Linked DNA regions of Homo sapiens: region 1 is linked to region 2. The links come from fine-mapping of genetic effects on gene expression. A gene starts in region 2. The other region holds a variant in brackets. All regions are shown on one strand. Distances are between the middles of the regions. Region 1 overlaps CES1 (carboxylesterase 1). Region 2 holds the start of CES1 (carboxylesterase 1).

What was found.
Region 1: its variant is fine-mapped to the expression of CES1 in whole blood (TOPMed, PIP above 0.99).

Annotation. Positions count from the first base shown.
Region 1 is chr16:55,808,561-55,813,560 of GRCh38, reverse strand. It overlaps CES1 (carboxylesterase 1), which reads left to right. Exons shown (of 14, transcript NM_001025195.2): 9 at 518-658; 10 at 2,551-2,634; 11 at 2,897-3,044. Among named protein-coding and RNA genes, the nearest start is that of CES1, 22 kb to the left of the region's middle. The variant C/T (reference allele first, on the strand shown) is at 2,584.
Region 2 is chr16:55,830,905-55,835,904 of GRCh38, reverse strand. It overlaps CES1 (carboxylesterase 1), which reads left to right and starts at 2,809. Exons shown (of 14, transcript NM_001025195.2): 1 at 2,809-2,901. The coding sequence starts at 2,850.

The DNA.
Region 1 (5,000 bases), 22 kb after region 2:
ACCTATTGTGTGGGATGGAGCCGTGGAAGTCTCTTTCAACAGAAACCCACACATAAAAGAAGGTTGATGAAAATGTTGTGGCCAGAGGTTTGCAAAAACCTAACCCAGTATTTCCCCCTTGAGTGATGACCCTGTATTCTCTAATTCAGTACTCACGGGGGCTTTATCAGAAGCAACTGCCAGGACTACCGAAAATCAATTGTGGACACACAGAGGAAAATGCATGCACTTCAAATTGAAATATATAGACATGTAATTTTACATAGATAATACATGTATTTCAATATGAGTGAAGATTTCTTCCTCTCCTCATCACCTGAGCAGTGTCAGCCTCTGCCTGAAGTTCTGCCCCTGAGTCATGGAGACCTACCCCCCTAAGTTAGGATCCTGAGCATGTGCAGCCATGGCGCATGGCCATGCCGGTCTATGGTACTGGTCTCACCCTCAGACAGGCAGAGTTGGGGACATGGGTGTGACTAGGGAGGGAATCACAGGTGCTGCACTGCTCTCTCCCCAGAGTCAACCCCTTCTGGGCACTGTGATTGATGGGATGCTGCTGCTGAAAACACCTGAAGAGCTTCAAGCTGAAAGGAATTTCCACACTGTCCCCTACATGGTCGGAATTAACAAGCAGGAGTTTGGCTGGTTGATTCCAATGGTGAGAAGGCACATGTCTGTTGGAGGGACTCAACCACCCCCATCAGCCCTCCTGTCTCTGGTCCCAGGAATGCTTCCCTCTCCGAGCTGCACTCTGAGTCCTGGGCAGCTGTTCCCTTCAGCAGGAGTTAACATTTCCACGGAAATCTTCTCCAGGAGGGCACAGTTTTCACCGGGGTATCAGGGCCCTGGGATTCCCTCTCCCCAGACTCTCTTATTGTCTTCCTATTGAAGAATCCTGAAGTGTCTGTGCTGGGAGGGCCAGTAGAGAAAATAACTCTGCAGATGGGAAAACGGAGGGGGCCTAGAAGGGGGAAGGAGTGGAGGAGTCCGGAGAAGCAGTCGGGGGCTTCCTGGCTTCCCACCTCGGGCTGGGTGTGCGTAATTCCCCTGAAAATCACTCATGCTCTTCATCACCTCATTGAAAATATCCAAAGAAAGTGGCTTCTTCTTGAGTTACCATTGACTTCTAGGGAACAGCAGACATCAGCGTCTACTAAGAGAGTGGATGGTCAGAGGAAGATGAGGATGGAAAAGCTACCTAATCGGGTGCTATGCTCAATACCTGGTAACAAAATAATCTATACAGCAAACTCCAGAGACCCAAATTACCCATGATCAAACCTGCACAGTTACCCCCAAACCTAAAATAAAAGTTGGAAACAAATAAATGGAAAAAGTAATTGAGTTCTAAAAGTAAAGAAGTGTTCTCCTTCCAGTTGAAGATAAACAAAACTGACCCTGGTTAAAGCAGTAGGACAGATTTATTCAGTAATATGATTGCAATAGGGGAAATAGTCCAGCGTGGAGTGGACTCACATCCCTGAAACAAAAGCCTGATGACGTTTCATAGGCCAGGTGTGCCAAGGGAAACACTGTGGTCTATGGGGAGAGGCTTGGTTCATGTGACTAGACCACCTGGATGTCTTCATCCTGGCTCACCTGGGGCAGAAACAAACTCCTCTTATCTTTAGGACAGGAAGCCATGCATTAGACCGCAGGAAGAACCCACTGAAGTCAGGCTCTACTCTTTCGACAGGGACTGGGAAGATCAGGAGTGAGCTCCCTGAATGTTTGCATTGCAAAGAGAAGGCTCTCAGGTCCTCAAGGAAATGGGGTTGGGTGGTAGATTCACATCCCAAAGGGCAGAGAAAGTGTTTATCATTGCAGGCTTCTAAAGTAACTGCTCTAGTTGGGTTCGGGGACCTGGCTGCTTGTCTCCAGGTTTTGGCTGGAGCAGAGTAAATTGTCCTGGCAGGGTTGAGCCTTCCCAGGCAGTTATGTTAAGGATACTGGGGTCATTCTAGGGACACAGCCTTAAGCTGCTAGAAGCAATGCTAGAGATTGGTCGAGTCCCTGAGTGCAGAGGTTTGGGAAGAGTTGTTATGTGCGTAGAGATGTGCAGTTCGCCCCTCAGAAGGATTTCAGAGGTTATACCAAAGACCAAAGCCACGAAGACAGGATTTAAGGATTTCAGTGTCATCTGTGACAGGTGGGGGTACTAGGGAGGTCTACATCCTCTTCCCCAGAGCCCTCTATTCCACACTGGCCTGGCAGACACCTTGCATCTCCATGTCACTGACCACTGTAGGGATCCCAGCCACAGACACACACACACACACGCGCGCACACACACACACTGCAAAACACTGCCACAGCTTCTCTGAAATTTTGTTTTTTGTTTTTTTTTTTTGTAAACTTTGCAATGCTTGAGTTTCTGGATATAAGCCCATTTGATTCATTGATTTCACCCATTTCAGTAAAGACTCATGCCCTTAAAAGCCCCCATAATTAGAGGACTTTCAGACTGCATTGGTTTGGTTGGTTGGTCAGTTTGTTTCTTATCATTAATTCCCAATGATTCATAAATGCTGAACTTTTTTTTTTTTTTAGCAGTTGATGAGCTATCCACTCTCCGAAGGGCAA[C/T]TGGACCAGAAGACAGCCATGTCACTCCTGTGGAAGTCCTATCCCCTTGTTGTAAGAGTCTAGGAATCATGGGAATTGGCTGAGACCCAGAGAGGGACAAGGACTTGCCCAAATCATAGAGCAATTAAATGGCAGAATGAAGACTGGGGCCTCAGGGTTTCCCCCATCTTTCCACCTTTCCCACTTCATTTTCCACCCTAGCGGGGAGTTGCACAGGGCTTATGGGGTTCACCATTGAGGCAGGACTTTCTGGTGGGCTGGAGAAGCTGCATCGCTCACCCGGGGCTGGTGGTCACTTTTTGATCTATTTCAGTGCATTGCTAAGGAACTGATTCCAGAAGCCACTGAGAAATACTTAGGAGGAACAGACGACACTGTCAAAAAGAAAGACCTGTTCCTGGACTTGATAGCAGATGTGATGTTTGGTGTCCCATCTGTGATTGTGGCCCGGAACCACAGAGGTGAGTCCCAGAGGTCGAACGGGAGGGACACAAACCCCACGAGCTTCTGTATCTGACCCACCTACCTCCCAGCATAGACAGACATGGAAACAGCTGAGGGTCAGGCCTCAAAGGCTGATTCCATATGGCATGGGATGAGGTGCTGTCTTATTTTGGTTTATGCCAGCAGAAGACTGTGAGAAAAAAAAATCCAGAGGCAAGTGGTTTTTTTAAGGTGATGATCCCAGATAACAGCAGTAGGGAGGTGGGGAAGTGAGAGAGGAAAGAGATGGAATCCAATCCAAGATGCGTTGTCAAGGGAGTATCCACTGTGGACAACTGGAGCGGGGAAACTCAAGGAAACACCAAGAATACAGGGCTCAGGGGCATCCCATCTGAGTGGCAAGGGAGCCGGGTATTTATTCACCAGCTTCTACTTGTCATTGGTTGAAGGCTCTTGCAAGGAATTGTTTATTCCCTGTGACTTCGACCTGCTGCACACAAGGGCAGAGTAGTCTCTTGTGACCAGACAAAGGCCTCAGGCCTGGAGCTGCAGATGCTGGAGGTGGAAGTCAGGCTGGCATGCCCAGGAAGAGGGGATATAGGTGAGACCCTGGCAGCATCTGCTGCAAGGGCTCCATGCCTGGAGTTATTGTGGGACATAGGGCTGCTGTAGGACAAATATTGAAAGATGAGTCGTGGAAGGGTTTTAAGGTCTGAGCCAGCTGCAAACAAGTTTGTTAAGTATTGGAGCTGGATAAAAAGTGGGAGCCCTGCATGGGATCCAGAGGATTGTCCAGGACCAAGAAGGCCAGAGAGAGGAGCCAGGGCGGGTGTGGGAGAGGTGGTCTGTAGAATGGCAGTGTCTGAGGGTGGTTTTTATGCATCTCAGTGCGTGCAGTAGCATGCAAGCACAGGGCAAGGGCAGGGTCTATGCAGGACCTGCTACCACTGACCCAAGGCTGTGTGGGTGGGGCATGACGTTAGGGATGTGTGTGCTCACCTAGAGAGGAGTGTCTGTTCCTGCGTGCCAGCTAGAGGAGATTCACAGGATTCCTTTTCTTCCAGCTCTCATTCGCCTAGTCTGCAAGCTAGGAAATGTCCTCTCTCTAACCATGCTGGAAGGGTTTTTAAATTTAGAACTTCATAAGCATGATAAAAACTAGCTAACGCTTAACTAGCAGGTGCCCTGACACACCTTTGCACAGGAAGGGGCAGGTGCTCATAACCCTCATTTCTTCACAGGGTCCTGATAAAAACCTTTAACCAAGACCACTGGAGTTGAATCTGTTCTTTCTTAAACTTGCCCTTGCCCTATGCTCTGCGTCTGAACTATATATAGAGTTCCCATCTCCATTTTCTGATGGTTTGAGCAATACTGAACTTATGTTTTTCATCTGGTTTCCCATGACTTTAAGTTCAGGGCTTTTTTTTTTTTTTTTTTGCCAGGACTACACAGATTTTATCTACTTTCACTTATTGTTGTCTCACTCTTTTTGATAAAATAACATTTCTGAATATAAAATTAATATGTTAAATTATAGAAACTTTCAAAAATATGGAAACACAAAAAGAAGAAACTATGTATCACTCATTTCCACTACCTGGAGGCAAGTGCTATAAATTTTTTGTGTTTTCGTCTAAAGATTTTCCATGTCCTATATACTTTAAAAATCAATTTTATATTTTACTTTTGTTCATAGAACACTATGTTGTGAGGATTTTCTCAATGTTGATACAAACTCATCAAAGCATTCCTTATTCCATGAAATGGCTGTGTTAAATAGACTTTAATATTCATATCCTATTAGATGTTTAGCCTGGCTACTCACATTCTGATGCTACAATAACATTGAGCTCAGCCTAATGTTCATAAGTCTCTAAACACATGTCTAATAATTTTCTTAGGATTATTTTTAGAAGTAAATAACTAGGTTGGACAATGCAAATGTTTTAGAACTTTGGGCAAATATTGTA
Region 2 (5,000 bases):
TCATGGCCTTGGGCAAGAATCCATCAGCAGCTCTGGGACTGTCATGTGATTTATGGCTGCTGGTTGCCCAATCTTTCCTGATGTCAATAGTGGTGTGGCCTGGACAAGGGCAGGCTTGCCAAGTGACATTGGGAAAATAGAACATAGCTCCCCAGGTACCTGGTACATGGCTCCCATCTTTGTCCCTTCCTTCCTTCCTTCCTTCCTTCCTTCCTTCCTTCCTTCCTCTCTCTTTCTTTCTTTGTCTCTCTCTGTCTTTCTTCTTCTTCTTCCTCTTCTTCTTTCTTCCCTCCTTCTCCTTCTTCTCCTTCCTCTTTTTCTTCTTCTTCCTTTCTCCTTATTCTTGTAGAGATAGGGTCTTACTATGTTTCCCAGGTTGGTCTTGAACTCCTCTCTCAAGCAATCTTCCCACCTTGGCTTGCCAAAGTGCTAGGATTACCGAGCGGGAAGGGTTGCCACAGTGCCCAGCCTCCCCTGGCTATTTCTATCCCTTCAGCCCTACCATGCTAAGCCTGGGTCAATGAGCTGACAAGGCAATTTGCCTTAGATAAGGCTACTGATTAGAATATCTTCCTGATGTATAAAAGCAAGAGAAATGGCTGCCAGCCACCCTGTGCTGGAAGGCAGAAGCCTCAAGTTCTGGTTCTGACTTTGCCATTGAGTTGCTGTGTGACCTTAGGCAATCCCTCCTCATCTCTGGGCCTTAGTTTCTTTTGGGAATAAATAACGGAATTGAGTTGAGCCTATGTATTAGTCTACTTAGGCTGCCAGAAGAAAATATCACAGACTGGGTGGCTTAAACAACAGAAATCAATTTAAGATCGTGAGACAGCATTAATCTCACGGGGTTATTTTGAGAACTGAGATCCTGCATACAAAACTCTCGGCATAGTGTTTGCCACACAGTAAGCTCTCAGTAAATATTTGTCAATGAATGTATGAAGGAATAAAAGTGGAAAATGCAAATAAGTGAAACACTGACAAGATTACAGCCAGGAAATGGCTGTTGTAATTCTAATTAGATATATAGACTTCCAGTATTTTCCTATGCAAATAAAGACATATGTTACTACCAAAACGGGACCATATTATACCTATCTAGATTTTCAAAAATATTTCATTATTTTATTGAAATATAAGTCACATGTCATAAAGTTTACCTTTTTAAAGTGTACAATCTAGTGGTGTTTAGTATATTCCCAAAGTTGCACTAACATCATCACTATTTAATCCCAGGACATTTTTACCACCCCCAAGATAAAACTCATGCCCATTAGCAGTCACTCCTCATCCCCGTCTCTTTCCCCTTCCCCAGACCCTGTCAAACACTTTCTGTCTCCATGGATTTGACTATTTTGGAAATTACATATAAAAAGCATCATACGACATGTGGCCTTTTGTGGCTGGCTTCTTTCCTTTACCATGATGTTTTCCAGCTTCATCCACGTTGTAGCATGTTCTTCTTATGGCTGGATGATATGCCTCTGCACGCATACACCACACTTCATTTACACATTCATCAGGTCATGGACATGCGGGTTGTGCCCACTTTTTGACTAGGATGAATGACACTGCTCTTTGTGTACAAGCTTTTGTGTGGACATGCTTTCAGTTCTCTTCGGTAGACACCTAGGAGGGGAATTGCTGGGTCATATGGAAACTCTGTGTTGAACTTTTTGAGGAACTGCCTACACCGCACAACAGTTTATAACCTATTATTTTCTCCTTTCACAACGCATCCTGTCTTCATTGTTAATAAATAGCTGTGCACATCACTATTTTGAGTGAATACATCGTATTTCCTTAGCCAGCGGTACCACAGTGTGTTTAGTGAATTCCCTATTGTTGGACATTTAATAATCCCATGAAAGAGGCTTTGAGTGACTTCCTTGTGTCCCCAGCAGCTTGTAAATGACAGTTTTCCAGGTGTGCCCAGAGCACTCTGTATCCCCTTAATTTGGTGATTTCACATTGCCTTGACATCACCCCTACTGCTCCTCCACCCCATCTGTCTTGTCTACAATGGTGAGCCCCTTGAGAAGCTGAACCATGTCTTGAATTGGTCTTTGTATCCATTATACATGGCCAGGTGCCAAGCATTTTGGTAAATGTTCACAAAATGGATGGGTACTTGGATGGATGGATGATAACAGCCAGGGACTATGGGGGGACGGAGTTCATTTTTACATTCTGTCCAAAAATCCCTGCTTTGGAAAGTAGTGAGTTCTCTGACACCGATGGTGTGTGACAGGAGGCTGGACCAGTTGGCAGGATATTGTGAAGCTAATTCAGGCCTCAGAAAGGGGACTCGATGAAATTTAAGATCGCTTCCAAGCTTGAGAGCCTGGAAAGCTATGAAAACACAAGCCCTGGGAGCTGAGATATGTCCTAACTTACCCAGCTGAGCTGTGAGGTGTGAGTGGCTCTAACATTTTCCAGTTGTTTCTGAGGACCTCAGATCAAAGCTTCCCTTTGCCTAAAAGCATCTGCCTGCTGGTGTGGGCCCTTGGGGGCCGTCACAGTGCACTGAGGTTAGAGTCCTGCAAGGGTGAACCCTTATGTAACAAGTAGTTGGGCAAGTTTACAGCTCTCTGTAATCTGACAGTAGAGTCCAGACTGGTTTGATGAAAGAGGGTAAACTGTGGGTGGGCGTGGCCTGAGGCCCCACTAGAAGCCCAGGGAGATCTGAGGAAAGGGAGGGCTTTTCTGATCTCTCCCAATTAGAGGATTAGGCAATTGGCAGCGCAGGGCGGTAACTCTGGGCGGGGCTGGGCTCCAGGGCTGGACAGCACAGTCCCTCTGAACTGCACAGAGACCTCGCAGGCCCCGAGAACTGTCGCCCTTCCACGATGTGGCTCCGTGCCTTTATCCTGGCCACTCTCTCTGCTTCCGCGGCTTGGGGTGAGTCCTTCTGAAATCAAAATGCGGGGCACTTTTTGAAATCCTTGTTCTGGGCCGAGGTGGGCGCAGATGCGTAGAAAGGCAAAGACACAACAGGTCCGGCTCTGCGGCGGGGCACGACTTCCATATTAGGACTTGGACTTGGAGCAGCTGAGCCCGGCCAGCCTGGCCCGCGCGGAGACGCAGGGAGGGTGAACATCCTGAGATCGCCCTGTACTGCTCGCCCAAATGCAGGCCGACAGCCGGCCCACCTCAGGCCGCACACACGAGAAATTTAGGCAGCTCAGTTTGCTGTCCCTTAATTAGTCCCCTTACGGCTGGATCACGGAGAGCGGCTCAACATAATATTAAGAGCATCGACTCTGGAGCCAGAGTGCGTGGGTTCGAGTCCCCGCTGGGCGCTTCCTCGCTGTGTGTCCTTAGGCAAGGGACTGCGCTATTCCGTGCTTGGGTTACCCCCTCTCTGAAACAGAGGTGGCAGTGCTGCCTACCTCACTGGGCTTTGGTGAGGAGGAAATGGGTGGCTGTTTCTAAAGCACTCTTGGCAGCGCCTGGTATGTAGAAAGCACGAAAAAGGGATGGATAAATAAAGGCGCTGTTTAAAAACGTAGTGTATGAATAGAAAATTTGAGCTGTGGTCAGGCCACTATATCAGGACCTCTTGCCATTAAAAAGACAGTTTCTTACTCATGTTCTCAACAGGAGGGGGACACCAGTGCGCGGGGCACAAGGGGAAGCAGCAGAGCCTGGGGAGGGGACAGGGCGGATCTGAGGCCAAGGGGCTTTTACTGTGGCTTCCAAGGATAGAAGAGGAAAGGCAGGGCAGGCAGGCTGAGGACTGGCAAGTTGGGATACTTCAGGGGCTCTGGGGCACAGGGGCTGTTCCTAATTGTTTTGTACCTAGCCCTGGCATGATTAGGGCAGGTGGGTAGTGGCCAGGGCATGGCAACCCGATCAAAGAGGCAGTTGGGGTGTGGGCTCTGGGGTGGCTGGACCCTGGGAGGGAGTTTCTCCAAGGTCAACAAGGCCTCAGATGCCAGAGCATCAGAATACAGAAAGCAAAACACATGGTACATAGAGGGGTGCAGCGAGGGGCCTCGAAATACCCCCATGCCATTTTATAGACAGAGAAACTGAGACTCACACAGGGAAATGTACTTGCCCAGGGTCAACCCGAAAATCACGCCTAGGTCTGTCTCTGGGTCCTGAATCCTGACAGCCCAGCCCCGTCTGCATCCTGTCTTCCTTCTGGCAGCCTGACACTGCGAGAGCTCTGGAACTGTGGGGAAGGGCAGAGAAGAGAGGAAGCCTATTTGGAACTGAATGTTCCTTTACCTCTGGTTACTCCTGGCAATGCCATCCATTTCCTTCCTTAGGAAGACCATACAGGCTGCCTCCACTTCCTCAGTTTCCTCCTCTGTAAAATGGGCATGTTGATGCCTACCCAGCAAGGCTTATTTGAAGATTAATTTAAAAAACTGGAATGCATGCCTGGCACATAGTAGGTGCCCACCATGTTCGTGCTTCATATAACATCAGCAGCAACTGGTCTTGTTCTCACACTTGTTTCTGCCTCCCCCCATTCACCCACTTTTTCACCCTTGGCAATCTGGCTGCCATCCACCTCATCCTGTTGAAGGGAATCCCTGAGCTGAGCATGACCAGCCCAGTGGTTTCTTCTCTGACTTGACTCTCCTCCACCTCCCTGAAGTCCTCAGCACTCTTAGCTGGTTCCTCGCCCTCTTGCTCCCTGGGCTTCAAAGACATGGGAACGTTCTCTCTCCCCTATTCTGATGGATCTTTGGTCTTGGCCGTAGTGGTCCCTGTGTTTGACCTTTGTTTTTTTTTCTCTTCCCTCTCACACTGGCATCTTCAATGAAGCCATACACATCCACCGTATGTACCCTCACAGTCCAGGAGAAGATTCTGCCCTGCTCCCTCACCAGGCTTCCTTCCAGCTTTGAAGTGCGCTCATCCTGTGGCATCATCTTGCCTGGATATCCCACTCACATCTCCACCGAGCCTGTGTAAACAGGGATCCAGCATTACAAGCCAGCTCTTTGGTCTTCTTTCCCTTCCATTTCCCCCACCTCTGGTCA